Regions from separate parts of the Homo sapiens genome. Here region 2 is linked to region 1. A link means that fine-mapping ties the variant in region 1 to the expression of a gene that starts in the linked region. Tissue or cell type: thyroid. Region 1 holds a variant in brackets; the other region holds the start of a gene. All regions are shown on one strand. Distances are from middle to middle.

Region 1 (10,814 bases):
ATTTACACCTAAGAAATATTATATACAGTAATTAATAAAATACATATTGTGTACATATGTACATACATTTATGTATTCATATATATATACAACAGACTACTTTTTCATCTTTCTAATCTAGGGCTACAGTTATTAGATGATTCTTGCTATCAGTTTCTAGGCTGTCCATTTCTAAGCTAAATAACTGAAATGGCTGTAATCTTATTTTAATTGTTCCTACTGTTTTTCCACCTGTTCATCACTCTCATCTATTTTTTTCAAAAAAATTCAGCAAACAATTATTCTGTCTTTAACATGCATCCTTGACAAACCACCCTGTTCCAAAGTTTTCACTTGGATTTTTTCTGCGCCTCACTTAGTGACTGTCACCCACATCAATATATTTTCCCTTTAAGGCCAAACTCTCTGAAAAAGCAGTCTAACTTCTTTGCCTCACTTTCCTCACTTCCGATTCATTTTTCCCACCCATTGCAACCTATTCTCCCCCAGAACACTACTGAAATTGCTTTTTCACTTATCATCAGTGACGGCTTAAATGATAAATTGTCTTCTTAGTCTGGATAAAAAATTATTGTGCATTATTGGCATTTGACACTGCTGATTATTCCCTCTTTGAAATGTTCTCCTTTCTTGGTTTCTCAATATTAATTGACTGAGTCTACTATTAGGATGTACTATTGTTTCTCACTCTCTCTTGCTGCTTCCTCTCTCTCTGTAAGCTTTAAAAATTTTAAATGCTTGGTATTCTATGGAGCAATAATCTGGGCAATTTTCTTGATCTGCATCTCAGCCCCTAGAAAATATCCCATAGCTTAAACTAACATCTGTATATTTATGACTTCTAAATCTCTCCAAGTCTGAGTTTTTTTTTAATGCTCCAGATCAGTGTTTTCCAAAGAGTGAGTTGTGCCCTTTTAGTAGTTCATGAACTCAATTTAGTGGCTTACAGCACACACAAAAAATGAAACAAAATGAATGGCACAGACAGAAACTATCAGACTACATCACACTAAGAAAGGCGTATTGTTCTGTGAAATATGAAATCATATCTTCATATAGGGCCGGATGTAAAATGGACTTGTTGCTGTGTTTCATAGTCATAAAAGTTTCAAAACCACTGTTCAGGACACATCTTCATAACTGCTCACTAGATATTTCTACATGGATGTCTTTCAGGCACCTAAACTCTGCAGGTTCCAAATCGAATTTATTATCTTTCCCCTTTGAAACCTCTTTTTCTTAGTCTGTTTTCTCACAGTTAATACTGTCAAGCTAGAAATCTGTCAGTAGTCATCTGCTCCTTCCATTTCCCTACTCTTCATATCCTAACACCATCAAAAACCTGTAATTCTCACTCCTACACATCTCTGAATGTTTCTCCTCATCCCCATTTTCACTGCTTTCATTTAGGCGCACAACATTTAGTTTAAAAATATAGTGTACTAGTGGAAGCTCTGAGGTGTAGTAAGGCCAGCAGAGTAGAAGGTGACTGCCACTGACAATACAGCTTGTTACTCACGGTTCCCAAGAGGAGGGGGCATGCCGCCCCAACAGGGCCACAAAAAGAAGCATCAGGGTTGGTTAGGAGGCAGAGGGAGAGAGGGGAAACCCTAAACAAGCCTTTATTGTGGTTTCCTTGGGAAGAAATGGGCAAAACAGAGTAAAAAGCATTAGGATTGGTAGTTTAGATATTTTCAATTGGCTCTGAGGCACAAGAGCTCTCTGTACCTGGCCCTGGGGTGATCAGGGCAGGTGGATAATGGACCAGAGTGTGAAAGCCCACTAAAGGAGATGGTTGAGGTGTGCGCTCTGGGTTGATTCATTTGTTTTGGAAAAGTGCACTTGTGGGCGAGTTATTTATTATCTCTAGAACTGGCAAACACTAGGAGGGGCAGTCCCTCCAGGGTCAGCAAGGCCCCAGATGTCACAGCAACAAAACGCAGGAAATAAGAAACACAGTTCCTCCACATCTGTCACCTGAATTATTGCAGTAATATTCTAATCCATCTCCCTATTACTAACTCTCTTACTACAAATTATCTTTCTAAAAGCCAGATTTAATCCCAGATCTATTTTTTAAAAACCTTACAAAATGAAACACAAAGGTTTTTTTTTTTTTCATTCAGGATCTTTAAATAGGTAGCCTATGTTCTTTTCCAGCTTCTTCTCCCATCTTGTTTGCAAATGCAACTGAAAGAAAAAAATAATTCCATAATCCTATCACTAATATATCAAACTGTTTTCCATTTTCTATGTATGTTTCCTTCTAATTCTTTACTGAGTATACATTTAATTTTTCCAGGCTTTTAGTAAAGATGTAGCTGTTTTGTATTTTATGCTTCTGATAGTTTTCTAGTATAAACTTTCACCGTACGAATATGGTTTTTCTTACTTGCCTTTTAATAGCAGGAAAACTTTGCAGCAAGTGAAGTTTATGAAAATTTACCAAATTACTCCACTGTAGTTAAACACTGAGACTATTTCCAAAGGTTGAAATGAGGCTTCTGCAACCCTATCCTATCCTCACTTCTTCCTTCCCATGGATTATTCATAAATATCCTAAGCATTAATACTGGGACAACAAGAATATATATATTTATGGCTTTTGACTCAAAATGCCAAAACGTTTTCTAAAAGGATATCATGTCCTATTCCACCAAAAATTCATTCAATATTTACTGACACTTCTTATGTGCTAAAACAGTACCAGTATAGACGTATAAACTGGACACTATTTTGATCTTCAAGGAGTATACAAACTACTGTGTTTCTGTATACTCTTAGCCTATAGCAATTTTACTGCCACCCTAAAGAGGTTAGATTGTTTCATGTTACACATTAGGAGAGGGAGGCTCAGAGGGATTAAGTCATTTGCCCCAGATTAAACAGAGGCAGTTCAAGGACCAGGTCACGACTATCTGGATATCACTCCCAATATGCTCTTATTTTCAGAGTGTTTTTTCTTCTTATAAAGCAATTACAATACTTTTCGTTCATATATTCAAGGTAATAATCAAATGTTTTAGAAGTCTCAAAAATAACTAATGTCATAATGATTTCATCAAATATTTAAAATCCTCTAATGCTCCTAGTAGTGACATTTGATCATACCCATCTATTTTGGTAAGGTAATGTGAGCTGTTTTAATAAATAAACCCTGAAATATTAGTGATGTAACATGACAAAAGCTTTTCTTTCTCATTCTAACCTTAGTCTAATGCTGGTGTTCAATGGGACAACTTTCCACGTGGTAACTCAGACGTGGGCTCTTCCCATCTGGTGACTCTGTCATCTTCTACGGTCCCTGAGGTCCTTTGCTTTTACCGTTTAGCAAATAAAAAGAGACCATGGAGAAGGCCCATTTTCGGCCTGGTACCTCACTTCCATTCACATTCCATTGTAGAGAACTAGCCACATGTCCATACCTACGTGCAAGGGAGTGGGGAGGGCTGGGAAATGTAGCCTTATCAAGGAAGACAGAAAAATAGGTTCTGGTAATATGAAATAGTCTCTTCCACATCCTCCTTTACTTTCACTATCCCAGGAGATGAGAGTTCCTGGTTAAGAACCATGCCTTTGATGAGAATGTCTGATCTACCTGGGTAGAGTCTTCTTTTGCTACTTACAGTATGAACTTGGGCTAGTTACCTAAATCTAATTAGTGTCATTTTCTAATAGTCTAGTTTATTCTTTTAATAATACTTAACTCTTAGATTATTGGCAGATTTAATGATATAATACATGTAAAGCACCTTAAAAGAACTTAGCACTTGCTAGTTAATCAATAAATATTAATTTTTTTCTACCCAGTCCTTCAGAGGTCATATGTCATTTATTTATATGATCCTAATTTTATCTTTTAAGGCCATAGTTTTAAAAAACCTAAACAAATTGAAAATTATGTTACTGATTTTTCTTCACATTTACAAATGCTACATTCTCAAAATTCCAGTGAGAATGAAATTTAAAAATGGAAAAAAGCAACACAACTGATGAAAGGAGAGAGAACACAGACTAAGGTAGATAACTAAATAAGACACTAAATTTTACACTGAAGTTCTCTTCAGAAACCTCTCAGAGGCAAGGTGAAGTTAAACATATTCTCTATTCATCTTTTTAGTTGAAGCAGACAAATCCAGCCAGTTTTAATATCTTAAGTCTTCTCAACATAATTCCAAGAAATTATCAATTTAATTACTCTTGCAGCTGCCATGATTCCATAAAAGCTAAGTTCTTCAAAGCATAATAAGTATACACTGACATCTAATTACATGTTCAGCATGTTCAGGATAGTGATATGCACAGTGGGTTGGTTTGAAAGGCTCAAAACACGTTTATTTTTATTAATTTATGGAACAGTTTCTATCTTCCATAAATGAGTATTAGTATAGTATTTGATTTTATCCTAATTACAGCCTACTACAGCCTCCTGCTGTCATAAATGGTGACACAAAACTCCTGGGTAAGGGGCAAAAACTCATGGCATAGCACAGCAAGCAGCATGAGTATTGGATTGTACGTTGGTCCCTTTGTTCCCCAACTCTGGCAGGCCCAAATGGATGCTATGCACACAATGGGCTTGTCACAGCTGAGGAACACTGAGCTTGGGGAATCCACTGTTTGACAGTAAGTAGTAACAAGCCTGCTCTTGGCTAATGCCTCATCTCTCAAGGTTTCTTGCTACAAACCATCCTGAGAAATCTCCTGGGTAAAGAGCAGTCAGGGACTTACATTTTTGGCAAGGCCAGCAAGGGTGTGCAGGATGCGCTCAGATCCCATGGAAGACTGCCTCTCCTAATAAGGATTTGATGTGGCTTACAAGAAGATAGAATATATAATAAGATTATAACATTAGAAAAAAATGTTGCAAAAAAGAAGCTTTATGGTTAAGACAATGCTATAGGGGAAGTTCATAGGCAGAAATACATGTCGAAGATTCTCTACAGTAACTAAAGACTGGCCGATAACTCAGCCCTGCACTTCCTAGTGGTAAGGACAAATAGGGAAATGTCATTGATTGTAAGATTCACATTATCCATAATATAATTAAATGCTACATGTATGTATAAGAGAACTTAACAGCATAGAATTGCCAATCAGAACTGGAATAACTAGAAAATTAATCAATTCTAGAGGTTAACCCTTAAAAGATAAAGAGGATTTCAAAACTAAGGATTATAGTGAGAAGTCTTTTAGGCAAGTGGGACATGACATAATCACATTGTAAAGGAGCTAACCAAAGCCAAGGGGTTTGTCTTCAGAGTAGAGAAAATAAGGCTAGAGGGCTAGAGGCGAGCTAGAGCAAAAAAGGCTTGCGCAGAAGAAAACAGGTAGTACTGATGGAGAGGAAATGAGGATACTTTTGTAGTTTTCTAAGAAACACAGTGATTGATAAAGCAATGTAAACTAGATTAATCTGGCCATTTTATTAGAAAACAAAACAAAAATAATCCAACTGAAGGGACTGAACTATGGTGGTAGCAGTAAACTGGAGGCTAAAACTTGGTGGAGAATTTGTTTTAATCTTACAGTATTTGGCAAAAACACAACTAAGATCTTAACTGACAGTGTGAATTTCTGTTTCAAATGTCTATCTTCTGGTTCAGGTTCAGAAATAATCTTAGATCTGAATTACAAACAATATACCTGTATCTCCCTACATTTTTTTTTTTTTTTTTTTTTGAGACAGAGTTTTGCTCTTGTTGTCCAGGTTGGAGTGCAATGGCGCAGTCTCGGCTCATGGCAACCTCTGCCTCCTGGGTTCAAGTGATTCTTTTGCCTCAGCCTCCCAAGTAGCTGGGATTACAGGCATGCGCCACCACCCCCAGCTAGTTTTGTATTTTTAGTAGAGATGGGGTTTCTCTATGTTGGTCAGGCTGGTCTTGAACTCCC[A/G]ACTTCAGGTGATCCGCCTGTCTTGGCCTCCCAAAGTGCTGGGATTACAGGTGTGAGCCACTGCGTCTGACCCATTTTTTACTTTCCATCCCCTCATTGATTTAATTCTATCCTTCTTGTTCTTAGACACGGCATTTGTTCAGAAGAGATACTCAATTCTTCTGGCAACATTATTGAAATAATTATATATGTGAAAGTAAAATTCTATGTAATATTGTCCTTCTAATATTCCAGAAAACTAGGAAATAATATTCTCAGTGATTTGTATATCATCACTTGAGCATCAAATAAATGTGCAAGAGAGAGTGAAGAATGAAAAAATATCACTGAAACGAAGCAAGCATTATATGGTGCTTACTATTTTTGTTAAGAAAGGAAAAACTGCTTAAAACAAATCTTGGAACTCCCACAAGAATCTATACCTAGAAGTTATAAACAACAAAGGTGGCCCCACTGAAATGGAGTTAAACACATCTGAGGATACAGTGACCATCTGTGTCTCAGGCTCACTGTCAGCAAAGGTAATTTTCATTAAATTCGGTTTGAAATCCATTTATACTAGACTGCAGGATGCGGACCTACATGCTTCACCAAAACACAAAGGATCCCTGCTAGATTATCACAGTCATTTTCATCCATGTGCATTAGAGTGAATATGTTAAAAATAACGGATAATTCCATTCAATTTAGTCACATCACAATTTACATGTGCATCAGAAGCAAACATTAGGGAATTAACAATAAATAATTATTGACTCTTACTTCATACTGCCACATTTTTACATGCAAAAGAAAATTTACTGGACGTTCATATCTCATTATAGCTGGCATGTAATTTATTTCTCTGTTGGAGTTGAGTTTATCAACTGTTTCTGTCCATGCAGAGAAAATATTCCTGCCTAAGAAACCAATACAAGAACACAGGTAGGAAGCTGGAAAGCTTAATTGAAAGTCTAAGTTAGGTTGTCACTGTGATTCAAAGGAAAGAAGAAAGGACCCATTTCATCATTTATTTAACTGCACAAAATCTTTCTCACTCAATTGCACAAAGTCTGACAGTTAATTGCACACTAATTAGTACCCTGCATATCATTATATCAGAATATACTAATATGCATCTATCAGAAGAAAGGGACCCCATTCTATCATTTATTACTCACCTATGTGATATCTAAGAGTATATCATTCTGATTAGATATAAGGAAAGATAAATATTTCATGGATTTCATGAAGTTGAAATAATGATGATAGTGATAATTATTGCAAAATGCTCTTTCAGTAGTTGTTGACAGCAGTTCAATTTAGATAGTTATACCTAATCTATGACTATCGTATTATTGGTACTCAATTGCCAAATGAGATTTATACAACCATAATCACAGCGGAGCATACTCTTATAGGAATAGTTACTTTAATGAAACCAAGGTTCACAGACCTTGCCCTACACAATATTTATAACTGAGAAAATTCAAGTGAGCCTTCCAAAAACCATCATCAATAACAACAATAATGATGGCTAACATTTATGGAGCATTTACTGTGAGCCAGGCATTGTCAATATTACATGTGGTATGTCTCATCCTTATAACAGCTCAACAAGATAGGTAGTATTTATCCCCATTTTACAAAGACGAGGCCTATCAGGGTTAAATGAACTGTTTCAGTCCACCCAGTTAGTTAGTGACAGAACTAGGATTCCATCCCAGGAAACCTGATACCAGAGCCTGAGTATGAACCACTCGGGGGACAGCAACCATCTGCTCCAGGACCCATGAAAGCACAAATCTCTATGACCAAACTAGAATTTAAGATACTAATATATTCATCACTTAAGTATGTGAAATAATTAGTGGATACTCTATAAGAATGTAACCTAAGGATATTAATATTCTAAGGTCTCTAAGATCTATTTCGTCTCTTTGGCATAACTTGCCAAAATAAAAGACAGTAACTATATAGAAGACATTTGAAGAAATGTGTTTGGAAGCCCTGTATTTCAAAAGTGGAAGACTTCCAGATATTTGACCAAATCTTTTGCAAAGAATCTCGTTCTCTAAGTTGAAAATTTATAAACCTCTGCTTTCAAAACTTCTCCCATAGAATGAGTACATACTGACAATTTAGTGTTCTCTCTTCAATGGGGAAAAAGCTTTAACAGCTTCCTGGACAAGACTGTATTAAGAAAATCCAATGCTTTCACACTGATTTATATAAAAAAAATTCTGACGGAATTGCCTATGAAAGAATGACTCCTGAAAAATCAAACTGAGGGGTTAGTTCTGTTTTGAAATAGGTAACTCCACAGTAACTGATTTTTAAAGACACTTGGCAATGAGTTTCTGACAAGAGTAATGGCATAAGGGCAGATGTACTTGGAACAGAAAGAAAAAGAAAACAGTAAAGCTGGTAAATTCTCAGAGATTATGGGACCTAATGTTATTTAGACTAACTTCAATCTTTAGACATAATGATGGAAGAAAAAGGGCAAAAGAAAAATGTTAGCATTCATTCTAAGGTCTTTACATTTTGAATAACTCGGGCTTCTTTTACTTCATCTAATTTTAGTGTGCTTTTTTTTTCCTTAGTGATAACCTAAAAACTTAATACGAATGGAGAATAGCTTTTCAATTTCAGATGTTGATTCCAGTGTCTCTCTTAGGACTGTGACCTACTTTAGAGCTCTACTTTTTTGCAGTATGCAACCTGACTTCAAAAGAGGCTTCACGGATCATGAATATGACAGATAAAGATGTTCCATAGTATGTGCCTATGAAGATTAAACACAGATAAGATAACCTTAACATGCTTATATTCACTACTATCAGGATAATAAAGGCCAGTGATCTTTAAGGTATGAAGAACCATCGAATTGACCGTTTAAGTACTATCAAAACAGAGTTAAGGAAGTTCAAAAAGATGTCTCGAGCTCTTCCATGGAAGGTTTTCGTATACAGCGCCAAGTTCACCTACTCCATACTCCTTACAACCTGATCATTCTTTCACTTTAATCTTTTATGTACAATATCTATTAGTTCATTTAATAAAACCTACTCTGTAAATATATTTGGAGTACATGTACTTATGTTACATCCCAACCAGAATTTAAAATATTTGAGACCAGGCATTCAGCTTTTGACTATTTTTTAATTTTAATACAGTATATAAGATCAAGATGTACAAATTATAATACACATACCAGACAAATTTTATTAAATAATAAAGAAGGGAGAGAGAAAGAGCAAGACACTTTTTAAGCACCATGTGCCAGGCCAGTGCTTGAATCTCTTCCTACGTTACTTCTCCTTATTATTTAATCGTTATTTAAATGTTACTACTCCCATTTTACAGATGGAGAAATTTAGCTTAAGGTAATGACAAGATTGAACTTCAAGTTTTCTGACTCCAAAATATGCCCTCTTTCGACCACACCGTATTATCTCTAAATATGGAAAACATTTCAAAAGTAGCAAGCGTCTTCAGAACAAAAACAAAAACAATCAAAGGGGCTTACACATTATAAACATGGTTTCGGGGTCATATGCACAGGGCTAAAGTGAAGCCGATGGTAAGTAACTATTAAGCAACACACTGTTCATGCTCAGTCAGAATTTTTCCTTGACTCCGTCTTGCTGAGCTCTTAATAATTTGTGCCTCCTTCTAGACCACAGCTGTTGCATTTATCTTTATTTGCAATCATCTTAGGTCCCCTCCACTTGTAACATTCTGGGATTTTATATGTGATGCATCCTCTTTTAAGTTTATTTCACACTCAACATCTACCTTTCCTTAGAGAAAATTAATGCTTTGCTTTAACAGGAAGAAATCCGAAGCCTGTCTCTTTCTACCTTGTTATGTAGGGCATGTTTCAGTAAGCACATGATGACAATGTCAACAAAGGAATGATTTATATCAAGGTGGTGACAATGTCATGAGGAAACTGAATCTAAGATTTGGGTTTGAAAAAGAAAAGCAGGCCGGGTGTGGTGGCTCACGCCTGTAATCCCAGCACCTTGGAAGGCCAAGAGTTTGAGACCAGCCTGGCCAACATGGTGAAACCCCGTCTCTACTGAAAATAAAAAAAAATAGCCGGGCGTGGTAGTGGGTGCCTGTAATCCCAGCTACTCGGGAGGCTGAGGCAGGAGAATCGCTTGAACCTGGGAGGTGGAGGTTGCAGTGAGCTGAGGTTGCGCCATTGCACTCCAGCCTGGGCAATAAGGGTGAAACTCTGTCTCAAAAAAATAATAGTAATAGTAAAATAAAATAAAATAAAAGGAAAAGCAGAGGAAGCAGTAAGAATTACAGCAATAAAGAAATCTTTAAAAAAATGTATAATAATTTAGACATTTAATTATTTTCCTTCCAAAGTAAGCACTTTGGAATGCTATCTGGCAGTTTTAAGATCTGTATTGCACAATTTTAGGTGTGATACAGATTTTCATCTTTGCAGAATGAAATTTATTTTGGGAAATAAACATTATTTGGAGTAAAAAAATGCTAGGGTATATAGACATTCATACTAAATTAACATAGAACTAAGAGTCTGGTATATAATCATAAGACCATTGTAATGTGGCTTGTAAGCTGACTCTAATTCTACAGGAGGAGTTTCAAAGTGTTTCCATCAATATTGATTATACTGATACAAATTTATGGCTCCCTCAGAGTCCTGATGAGTTTGTCAGCAAATAAGTATTATGATGTAATAAAAAATGAAAAACAAGTTTCATCAATCTCCCATATGAAAAACAGGAATAAGATCACCCTCCCAATATCACCATGCTGAGTTGGAAAAGAATATATAACATCATGATACCCAAGTATCTGTTGTATTATGACCTGGGCTGGGGAGATAATAAGTAGTGAGGGCAGTAAACAATGCAGAACAATTTACTGAAACAAAGTCTAAGACTATGAATAACTGA
Region 2 (10,814 bases), 270 kb after region 1:
CCACATCTCATTTGCAACCCTTTGGTAGTTATGAGGAACTCGGTAACAGCAGGGTTTTTGTCAGGTTTACTGTGGTATCCCAGGCCTTCAAATATGAGCTGGCACGTAGTAGGCATGTAATTATTTGTTGAATGAATGAAGGAAAATCGTGGTCTCCTTTGTAATCCACTCAATGCAGATGCTATTTTAAAATTACATTGTTACTGACTGAATCTCCGCCAGTTCCATAAATCAAAGCTTCATATACGCAAGCTTATTTCAGGTACTGAGTATATTTAACCATCTACTTAAATTACCCAACTTACTAGATCTATGTTAAACAAAAATACCACATGTCATCACTTTTCAGCAGAGATCAGAATAATTGGTACTACACATTAGAAGAATCACCTCAAATTAAAGAATGTACAATAATGCCTTTGATCACTGTACAATAGAGTACATGTCAACATTTTTTATACTCTGAATGATGAAAATGGTCTAAGAATTTCCATTTTTTTTCTTTGACAATAAGGCTAAGACTATTGATATACTTTTTTAGTGACACTTTATTTTTATTTAAAATTTTTTTTATTATACTGTAAGTTCTGGGATGTATGTGCAGAACGTGCAGGTTTGTTACACAGGTATGCGTGTGCCGTGGTGGTTTGCTGCACCCAGGCACTTTATATTTTAAAAGCAAATTTTAACTGAAATATAGTGAATAAAATAATGAAATGTATTTCATATATGCTTGCTTAAAAGCCTAAAGGCAATTATAAGTGATGTATTTCAGATCAACTTTCAAAACTGCATATTTGAAGTCCAAATTATCTGAAAATCCCCCATTAAATAAAGTTAAATAATATTTTCTATGTCACTGACAAACAGCAATGGCACTATTGTACTTCATGGCTTAGGAAACACAGAAGAGTTTGCGTGGGGAGCTTTGCAGGGAAAGGGTGAGGGTGCATTTGCTAGAGTTTGGGAAGTTATTTTTAAGACTTCTCACCAATGTTCACAGTTCTTTATTTTTCCCAATAAAATTTTGTTAAGTATTGAAAATAATTCTGCTTTTACTCATATCACAGAATTATAAAATCCTAGAATTAGGTATAATCTGAGAGGTTGCCTGAGCCATCCTTGGTCCAGTTGCTACTGCGATTTACTTATTTGTCATTTCAGTAAACACTGACTGAGCATCCACCCGCAGGTACTTGCCAGAGATATAACATGGACAGAAAACAAAGTCACTGGCCTGAAAAATCTTAAAATCTAGTAAATTAAAGCTGTCCTTGCCTAACAACACTTTGTGACTAGAAACTAACAGCGCAGCTTTGTGAAGCTGCTCGTTCCATTTTTGGATGGATGAGGTCAAGGGTTAAAGTGCTTCCTTCTAAGGCGGGTGAGTTCTGCCTTAGCCATGGCCCCTTTCAATGGTCTGAGGGCCACTCTATGGAACCATCATCTGTGTAATGCTTCCAGTAGATCACATCTCAAATAATCAGACATTTATCATGGCTCTCTCTCCAGTCTTCTCTTCGTAAGACAACCAACCCCCAGTTCCGACTGCGCTCTTCATAGGGTTTTTCTTCCAAACTCCTCACCATTCTGGTATCCACCTCTATATGTCAATTTCTTGCTGCAGCACCTCAGGACTGATCAGCACACAGAGAAACACATTGCCTTCCCTTTCCAAAATCACATCTAACTCGTTTCTCTTTGCTCATTAGATTCTAGCTCGACTCATATTTTTCTGTCCTTCAAAAACACCATTTCTGGTGTTCTTCGCATCTTTACATTTGCCCATCTCTGCGTCCTCCCACAGCTGCCCACACGGCTGGTTCCGTCTCATCCTGAGAGCTTCGATGTGGGCATCGCCTCCGCAGAGAGGCATCCCTCGTGATCCACCTCAATCAACTTCCCCTCCACTCCCAGTCACTACCTCATCTCTCGTTTTAGTCTCAGTTTAACAGCGATGATTATCGGAACTTATCTTCTTTGTTTAGTTATTTACTGGCGGCTTCCTCCCTAGAAAGTGAGTTCATCCCTGCACTGCTGTCGTCTGCAATAATGCAAGGCAAAGCGAAGGACGAGAGGGAGGGAACGCCCCCGCCCTGGAACCTACATGGCATGATTCATATCTCTCTATTTCTTATGAATACAGTCAAGACGGCACAAGCTTTTCTGGCAGACATAGCCCATTTGTTTAAGGTCAATAAAACCGTGTCTTTGTCACATACGGACGAGACACATTCTTACGTGATGGGATCGTGCTGCAGAATTTTAGAAGGAGGGCTGGTTTGCTGGATTCAAACTACTACTCCGGCTCTATTTTTAGTCTCTTATCCAACACCACCTCCTTCCTGTCAACAATGGCTTTGATACCCACACCATCTATATCCTAGAAAAGGAAGACATTTCTACCTCCTGTGCTCTTTCAGAGCGGGGCCTGCTTCGTGTCCACTGCTTATCTAAAATGTTATTCCTGAGGGGCGGGGGTGGGGGCTCATAGCGAATCTCATTCATAAGCGCTGCTTTGTTTTTCTCTCTGTGTTGCTTCCATGACTTCTTTTTAAAAAATTCTTTCTTCCCCTATGCCTTGGGGCTGCTGGCAGTGGTGGTAAATCCTGCTGATGACCCGGGGTTAGATAATTAGTGGTACCTAGATTGCATTCATTTTATCAATGAGACAACTTCTAGGAGTTTCATTTCAGGCCACTTAGGAAAACACATAGCCAGAAGGTGCCACCCTCTGCCATAGCGGTTGCTGCCTCTGTTTGTTCAACATAAGAGACAAGTGAGCTCTTACGCTATTTCCCGTGACTTGCAGAGCCAGGGAGTGCTACCAGAAAAGGAGTCACTGTTAACCACAGAGTGAGGATCCAGCAGGAGCGCCCGCCAATAAAATGTTACATCGGTATCAAATATAAATCAGAAACAGCTTTCCCTAAATTCCTATATTTATTAACTAACACAAATCTGTAAAATCACTGAAGGCAGTTATTGTTCTACTGGTTTTATTGCTCATCAACGGAAAAGTTAAGAAACCAGCTCAGAGTCCTAAAGCAAGTTGCAGCATTGACACAACAGTAGCCTCTTAATCCCTTTCTCTCTCCTGTGGCTGGCCCTGGAAGAGAGGAAGTTTTCAGTCCTATGGCCGTGTCACATGTCAATATCCTGGGATAACTGGTTCCAAAAGATTCTGGCAGGGACTACGGTCATCACATTAATCTAAAGAATGGAAGTAACATGTGGACTGCCTCAGTTCAAACAGACCACAGTTGCTAAACAGAGACCCAAACTGGGCCACGACGCTGCCTTCATTTAGGAGACGAGACAGAATTTAAAGGAAAGCACTGATTGCTGGAAAAGCAACAGAGAATTAAAACAAAATTTGCAATCTCAATTGGAATTTCTGATTTACTCTTGGGGCCACCTGAGAAGCAATGTGTGACACAAATCAACAACAACAGCAAAGAAATGAAGATCAGATAGATTCCTTTCTACTTGCTCTTTCACTTTTCTAAATGATGCCGGAGGATGCTACATCACATGAGACAGAGCAAAGTTGCTGGAGCCACTCTCTCAAGAGGACTCTGGGGCTGGAAACAATTGTGTCTTGTTCCCTGACACAGTCTTGGGAAACAAAGCCCATGGATTAAGTAAACTCACCCAATGATCCCATCCTGGGCAAAAAGAGAATGATTCCAGCATGCAGACCCTCAGTATTCCCATAGCAAGTGACCTCTGCCCATTAAACAAACAATAGCACAGCCTAACACTCGATTGTTTTGAATGTTTCTGAAGCCTTTGCTTCATTCCCAAAACACTAGAAAGTATCACTGCAGAGGATTAAAAGCATTCATTGATTATGGAATGTAGACATTACAATAAAAAGAGACTCTAGAAATTTAATTTTGTGAAGAAATGCAAGATTCTCATTAATTTAATTAGAACATAAATAACATCAAGCATAGCTAATAAAGTTCAACATGATTTGATTTGCATGAGGCTCTATTAATGTAAGAAGTAAAGTGATATTTGCAAACTCTCAGAAAGCTGGACAGTTGGAATGGTTTCCTAAACAGCTATCTATTAGGCTACACAAAACTTGGTTTTTCTTTCCATATGTTACACATCATGAGAATTACACAAATCTATGACAGGGACAAAAGTGTTCCTGGACCACTGGAGGGAAGAGCCTGGGAACTGAGGATTCCAGGAGACCCGTCTTCCTCTTCATATTCTCCTCTTGTCCATCAGTTTAGGAGCCAGGCTAAAGCTGAGGCATCTTAAAATTTCGGAATGGGAAGGAAAAATAACATTAGCTACCCTGGAGGCTGTGGAAATAAATGCATCTGAATGCAAAGGACAGTGACTTGCAGGCTGCCTGAGATCCAATAAAAGCCTCATCAGAAGTAGCTGTCAATCACTCTAACATGTATGGCTGGTTCCAATAATTCTACCAGTCAAGATAATAAAATTTCAGAACACTAAATCAGCTCACAGCAAACCAGTTAAAAATATTTTGTGATCGCCGTGACCACCATGGTGGTCTAATACCCTGGGTTATATGTTTTAATAGAAAACACAAATGAGGCCGGGCGCGGTGGCTCACGCCTGTAATCCCAGCACTTTGGGAGGCCGAGGCGGGCGGATCACGAGGTCAGGAGATCGAGACCATCCCGGCTAAAATGGTGAAACCCCGTCTCTACTAAAAATACAAAAAATTAGCCGGGCGTGGTGGCGGGCGCCTGTAGTCCCAGCTACTCGGGAGGCTGAGGCAGGAGAATGGCGTGAACCCGGGAGGCGGAGCTTGCAGTGAGCCGAGGTCACGCCACTGCACTCCAGCCTGGGCGACAGAGCGAGATTCCGTCTCAAAAAAAAAAAAAAAAAAAAAAAAAGAAAACACAAATGATTCCATTCTTGGAAGAGTCTATCAGTTAGCACTTTGAGAAGACAGTCAGCCCTGAGTGCCCTGCCTCTCTTTCATTTCCTTTCCTAAGTACTGGAACCTCAGTCACAAAAGAAAACCAATATTTAAGTCAACAGACATACATTTAAAATTATTTCGCTGATGTGACTATGAATTTTACTTATAAAACAAGGACGTGCTGAATAGTTCACAGTATTTTTGGTGTGTTCATTTCAAGCATCTTGAACTGCTCTTTTCCTCAGCTTCCGTGTCCCAACACTGCCCAGATTTGCCCTCTCCATCTTCAACTACTTTTTTCCAGTCTCCTTTTTAGACTTGTCTGCCCTCCCCAGTTTCCAATACCTCGATACTCTCTTCTCATCTTCTCCTCCTTTTCTTCTAGGCTGTCTCATCCGTGCCCTCAATTCCCACCTCTCTACAGATGACTCAGCAACTTACCTTTAGTTTATCCTTAGTTCAGACTTCTCCTCCAAGCTCCAGACCCATCTAAAAGCCTTCATGGCCAGGTGCGATGGCTCATGCCTGTAATCACAGCACTTTGAGAGGCCGAGGTGGGCGGATCACTTGAGGTCAGGAAATCATGACCAGCCTGGCCAACATGGTGAAACCCCGCCTCTACTAAAAATACAAAAATTATCTGGGCGTGGTGGTGCATGCCTGTAATCCCAGCTACTCAGGAGGCTGAGGCAGGGGAATTGCTTGAACCCGGGAGGTGGAAGTCTCAATGCGCCAAGATCACCCAACTGCACTCCAGCCTGAGCGACAAGAGCGAAACTCTGTCTCAAATAAATAAATAAATAAAAGCCTATGTGACATTTACCCTTAAGACATTCTAAACACATCTCCAATACATCTAAAGTTGAATTCATTGTAGCCTCTCTACCACATAGTCGCCCTGGAATGCTTCTAATCTCAGTGAATGACATCACCGCCCAATTATGCAAGTCAGAAACCTAGTGATTATCTTGCTTACCTCTCTCTTAGCCTCCGCTTCTAATACATTATCAACTCTTGTCAATTTTATTTCCATCTCTGATAAGCACTACCCACATACAGGCTACCATCATCTCTCATCTGAACCACCACGGTAGGAAGATCTAGGGTACAGTTCAGAGAAAGCAATCAGGCAGGAAAACCAGTAAGTTTTATTGTTTGAGACAGGGCCTCAGTCTGTCACCCAGGCTGGAGTGCACTGGCGCAATCTCAGCTCAATGCAACCTCGACTTCCCAGGCTCAGGTGATTCTCCCACCTCAGTCTCCCAGGTAGCTGGAACCACAGGCAAGTGCCACCACATCGGGTTAATTTTTGTATTTTTTGTAGAGACGGGTTTTCACCATGTTGCCCAGGCTGGTCTCAAACTCCTGGGCTCAAGCAATTCACCCACCTCAGCCTCCCAAAGGGCTGGGGTTATAAGCATGAGCCACCGTGCTGGGCCACCAAGAAGTTTTAAGAAGGCAAATTGACTGGATTAAGAAAATGTGGCACATATACACCATGGAATACTATGCAGTCATAAAAAAGGATGAGTTCATGTCCTTTGTAGGGATGTGGATGAAGCTGGAAACCATCATTCTCAGCAAACTATTGCAAGGAAAAAAAAACAAACACCGCATGTTCTCACTCATAGGTGGGAACTGAACAATGAGAACACTTGGACACAGGAAGGGGAACATTACACACCGGGGCCTGTCATGGGGTGGGGGAAGTGGGGAGGGATAGCATTAGGAGATATACCTAATGTAAATGACGAGTTATTGGGTGCAGCACACCAACATGGCACATGTATATATATGTAACAAACCTGCACCTTGTGCACATGTATATATATGTAACAAACCTGCACCTTGTGCACATGTACCCTAGAACTTAAAGTAAAATAAAAAAAAAAAAAGAGAGAGGAAAAAAAAAAAGAAGGCAAATTGGTGGAAAAGGCATGTGGCTGACAGTGGAGAAAACAGATGAGAGCAAAACTGAAAAGGGTCCACTGGCTTCAGGAATAAAGAGGTTATTTGTGACCACGGAGAGTCATTTCAGTGGAGAAGCGTTTTTAAAAGAACGGTCAAGCCTTGTGCATTTTACCTGTCTGGAAAAAGAAAGGGAAAAGGAAAGCCGGGCCCAGTGGCTCATGCCTGTAATCCCAGCACTTTGGGAGGCCGAGGCAGGTGGATCACGAGGTCAGGAGTTCAAGACCAGCCTGACCAACATGGGAAAACCCGTCTCTACTAAAAATACAAAAATTAGCTGGGCATGGTGGCACATGCCTGTAGTCCCAGCTACTCAGGAGGCTGAGGCAGGAGGCCTGAACCTGAGAGGCGGAGGTTGCAGTGAGCCAAGATCGCAGCATAGCAACAGAGCAACAGAGTAAGACTCCGCCTCACAAAAAAAAAAAAAAAAAGAAAGAAAAAAGAAAGGGAAAAGGAAGCGACTGAAGATAGGAGAATGTGGAAAAAAATTAATGGAGCCAAGGATCCAGAGGAAGCAGAGGGGAATGCCACACAGGGCCCAGGTAGAGGGGGCACCACTGAACAGAAGAAGGGATGAAGGCATGTCTTTTTTGTTAGAGAAAAACAGAGAACATGTGTGTTGACCTCTCATTATTGAATGAATCAGAAGAAAGCATTGTCAGAAATGGAGGTGAAAACTGTTGTTACAAGAGAACAAAGTATTGGGATAGTAATTGATTAAATGAACATTTATTAAGTGCCCAGAAGCTGAGCTCTGGGAAGCCAATGGTAAACCAGAGAGAAGCTATAACGATTCACATGAAAATCCCAACTCTGCAAGGAATGAAATTTCAGCACGAGTGTTAAACTGTCAAGAATGGGAGCAGATTAAGGGGACCATGTGGAAAAAAATCTTCAAGCCCGATGACAAAAGCCTCAAAGATGCAAGCAGGCATCCTTGAGGCTGTAGGTGGTGATGAGAAGCGGGCTTCAGAGAAGGAGGAAATACTGAGTGAAGGTCAGTGGAGCGGGAAAGAGAGGCAGTGAAAATGCCATCCTGCCCAGGGGCCTCAGAGGCCAGATCTGAGGGGACATAGCAGGCTGGTCTCAAAGCCCTGTAATACAGTAATCCTATGACAAACAGGCAAAACAGCAGCCTCTGGAGCTGCATTCCATCCCAGGCCCTTACTGTCTCCCTGCTCCAGGCTCTCTGGGTGGACAGAAGACCTCCCAGGCTGTGTCCATGGGGAATGGCACCATGAGGAACACCCTGCTAGATCCTGCCTTTCCCTGCTCTCGTGGGCTGCAGGGCCGGGACTCGCAGGGAGAATTGCCAGGCTCTGATGGTAATCACCCACATGCTCAAAGTGCACGCAAGATAACTTGAAGAAAAGTCAGGCATTTTCACTCTGAGATCAGCATGCTGATGACACATGGTCTACATCTCCCCTTTTATCTCTAATCCTGACACCACAGTTTCACAACGTATTCAGCATCTGAGGAGCCTAACAGGGGACTGGGATCAAAGTGAGCCAGAAAAAGATTAATCCCGATAAGACAGAGGTTATGATGATAGCCGGGAGAAAATATTTAAAGAATGTGGGGAGCGCTCTTCTGTGTCTCTCGTAGGAACGTGTCTCTCTCCTACTTGCTGGGTCACTTCTGGCATTCCGTTGATCTCAGTGGACGTCCATGACAAGACAAGCCCAACACAAGCAGGCCTATTTATGGTTCCCAAACTCAGAGTCAGTGACAGACTAAATAGGCTCTGACTCTCGCTCTGAAATATCCGGGTGGCTGTGGCTAACCAGGGTCTTCATAAATCATGAGTTTAATTAAGGCAACAGCCAATATCCACTTTTTCTCCCCATAGAAGTTCCCCCACTGCAGTCATCAGCAAAGCAAAAAATGCTGCTTAACTTTCCCCCAGTTTCACTACTCTACAACTGTTATTACAGTATTGTTTTTTTCCCAGCCATTTTAATTAATGTTGTTTTGTGAAATTTCTTCCTGAATCTATTTCTCTGAGAAGTTTAATTTTAGAAAACCAAAGTGTCAAATGATCTAGCATTAATTACCCTATTTTTACACTTTGAAAATAGCAAACTACTAATCAATTTTTGTTTCTTCTTTATAATCAGATAGGTGTAATGATTTTTTTCCAGTAAAGCTTTTTTTGCGATTATTTGGGATACAGTATTACTATAAGCAACAAATATTAGATATTATTGTCCTTCCTTCTTATTTCATTTGAAGTATCCATAGTGGTATTTTCTCCCTACCCTGTCTCCGCCCCTATTTGGTTTGAAATCTTTTCTAACTAGACCTCTTTCAAGAAGGAAACTCTATAAAACTAAATCATCTTTTTCCTGCAAGATAACCTGAACTCTTGAAGAATCCACTTATTTGTATGACAATGTCAAAGTTTTTGCAGCATGCTAAATGTTAGACTGTAGTATTTTAGTAAGTTTCTTGCCAGCTTTTAGAAACAAAATATATTTTACTAATAATGGAAAGAATTCAATAAATTAAGCAATGAAAGGAGCAGAAGCAATAGTTTCAATATTGTAAGGGACTATAAGCAAGATTTTTGGCCGGGCGCGGTGGCTCATGCCTGTAATCCCAGTACTTTTGGGAGGGTGAGGCAGGCAGATCATTTGAGGTCAATAATTCAAGACCAGCCTGGCCAACATGGTGAAACCTCATCTTTACTAAAAATACAAAAAATTAGGCAGATATGGTGGCAGGCGCCTGTAATCCCAGCTACTCGGGAGGCTAAGACAGGAGAATCACTTGAACTCAGGAGGCGGAGGTTACAGTGAGTCGAGATCGTGCCATTGCACTCCAGCCTGGGAGACACAGCGAGACGCCGTCTCAAAAAAAGAAAAAAAAAAATACACACACACACACACACACACACACACACACACACACACATAAAGATTTTTAAAGTCTAAGAATATTCTTGGGGAGATTTTATTTTTTATATAAAGAACATTTATCTAGAAGAAAGAGCTGTTCAAAAATTATAATATCAGTCCTTTATCTCTGCCTCTGTTTTCTCTTGCTTGTTTCTGACACAGACTCAGATGTTAGTATGAATGAGTCACCGCGGTAGGTAACTGAATTAAAAAAGAGAGGGAGAAAAGGTACTTGTGTTTGTATTTTTATAAAACTTTTAATAATTTTCACAATACAGTCATCACCATTATCTAGAATTACAATAGTTAAAAGTTACAAATGAAAAGATGATTCAGTCCGTAGGCACAGGTCAGCTCTTCACTGAGCACCGACAGTCAGGGAAACATTCCTTCACTTATTTATTCACCCAATACATACTTACTGAGTGCTGTCTGCCCGTCACTGCCCCAGGTCCTAAGAGACTCATCTCGGAACAAAAAGGCTCTGCCCTAATAGAGCACCCCTGCTAGTGAAGGATTCCGATCAAAAGGGAGTGAACACAAGAATTTCAGAGGGTGATGAGGACACACAGCAGAGTAAGGGCATAGAGGCTGGGTGGATAGGGCAGGTTCCCCTGGGCGTTGCATTTGGCCTGAGATCCAAAAGATGATAAGGAATCAGCCATGGGGGAAAACGTTCTGGTCAGAGAGAAGAATAATTACAAAGGCCTTGGGGAAGGAATGAGCTTTATTTGTTTTAGTTCTTAAAGCTCTTCCTCCATGACTCAGTTGTTGGAAAACTTTTGGGAAGTCATTTTGATAGACAGTTGCAGTATGGCTGGAGGAGGATCCAGGCTTCCGACGACCCCAGACTCACATATCCTGAGGCTAAAGCAGCCAAGACACGAGGAAGGGAAGGGCATTATTTATGAGACCCTGAGACTGTTTCTTCACCCTGACATTCATTCACTCCTTCATTTATTCATTGTCTCATCTTATTTAAAAGTAACACTGTCAACCAAGCCACCTGTAGTCTTAGTGTATGGAAAACA

Direction of the effects. Alleles are on the strand shown, and positions count from the first base shown. SD is a standard deviation of normalised expression in the study named.
With allele A in place of G in region 1, the expression in thyroid of the gene that starts at base 5,431 in region 2 is lower (small effect, 0.25 SD a copy in GTEx).

What was found. PIP is the estimated chance that this variant, and not a neighbour inherited with it, causes the effect.
Region 2: it holds the start of TENM3, and the variant in region 1 is fine-mapped to the expression of TENM3 in thyroid (GTEx, PIP 0.99).

The regions. Positions count from the first base shown.
Region 1 is chr4:182,504,806-182,515,619 of GRCh38, reverse strand. All of the region lies in intron 3 of TENM3 (teneurin transmembrane protein 3), which reads right to left. Among named protein-coding and RNA genes, the nearest start is that of TENM3, 270 kb to the right of the region's middle. The variant A/G (reference allele first, on the strand shown) is at 5,893.
Region 2 is chr4:182,238,019-182,248,832 of GRCh38, reverse strand. TENM3 (teneurin transmembrane protein 3) reads right to left here and starts at 5,431. Exons shown (of 28, transcript NM_001080477.4): 1 at 5,357-5,431.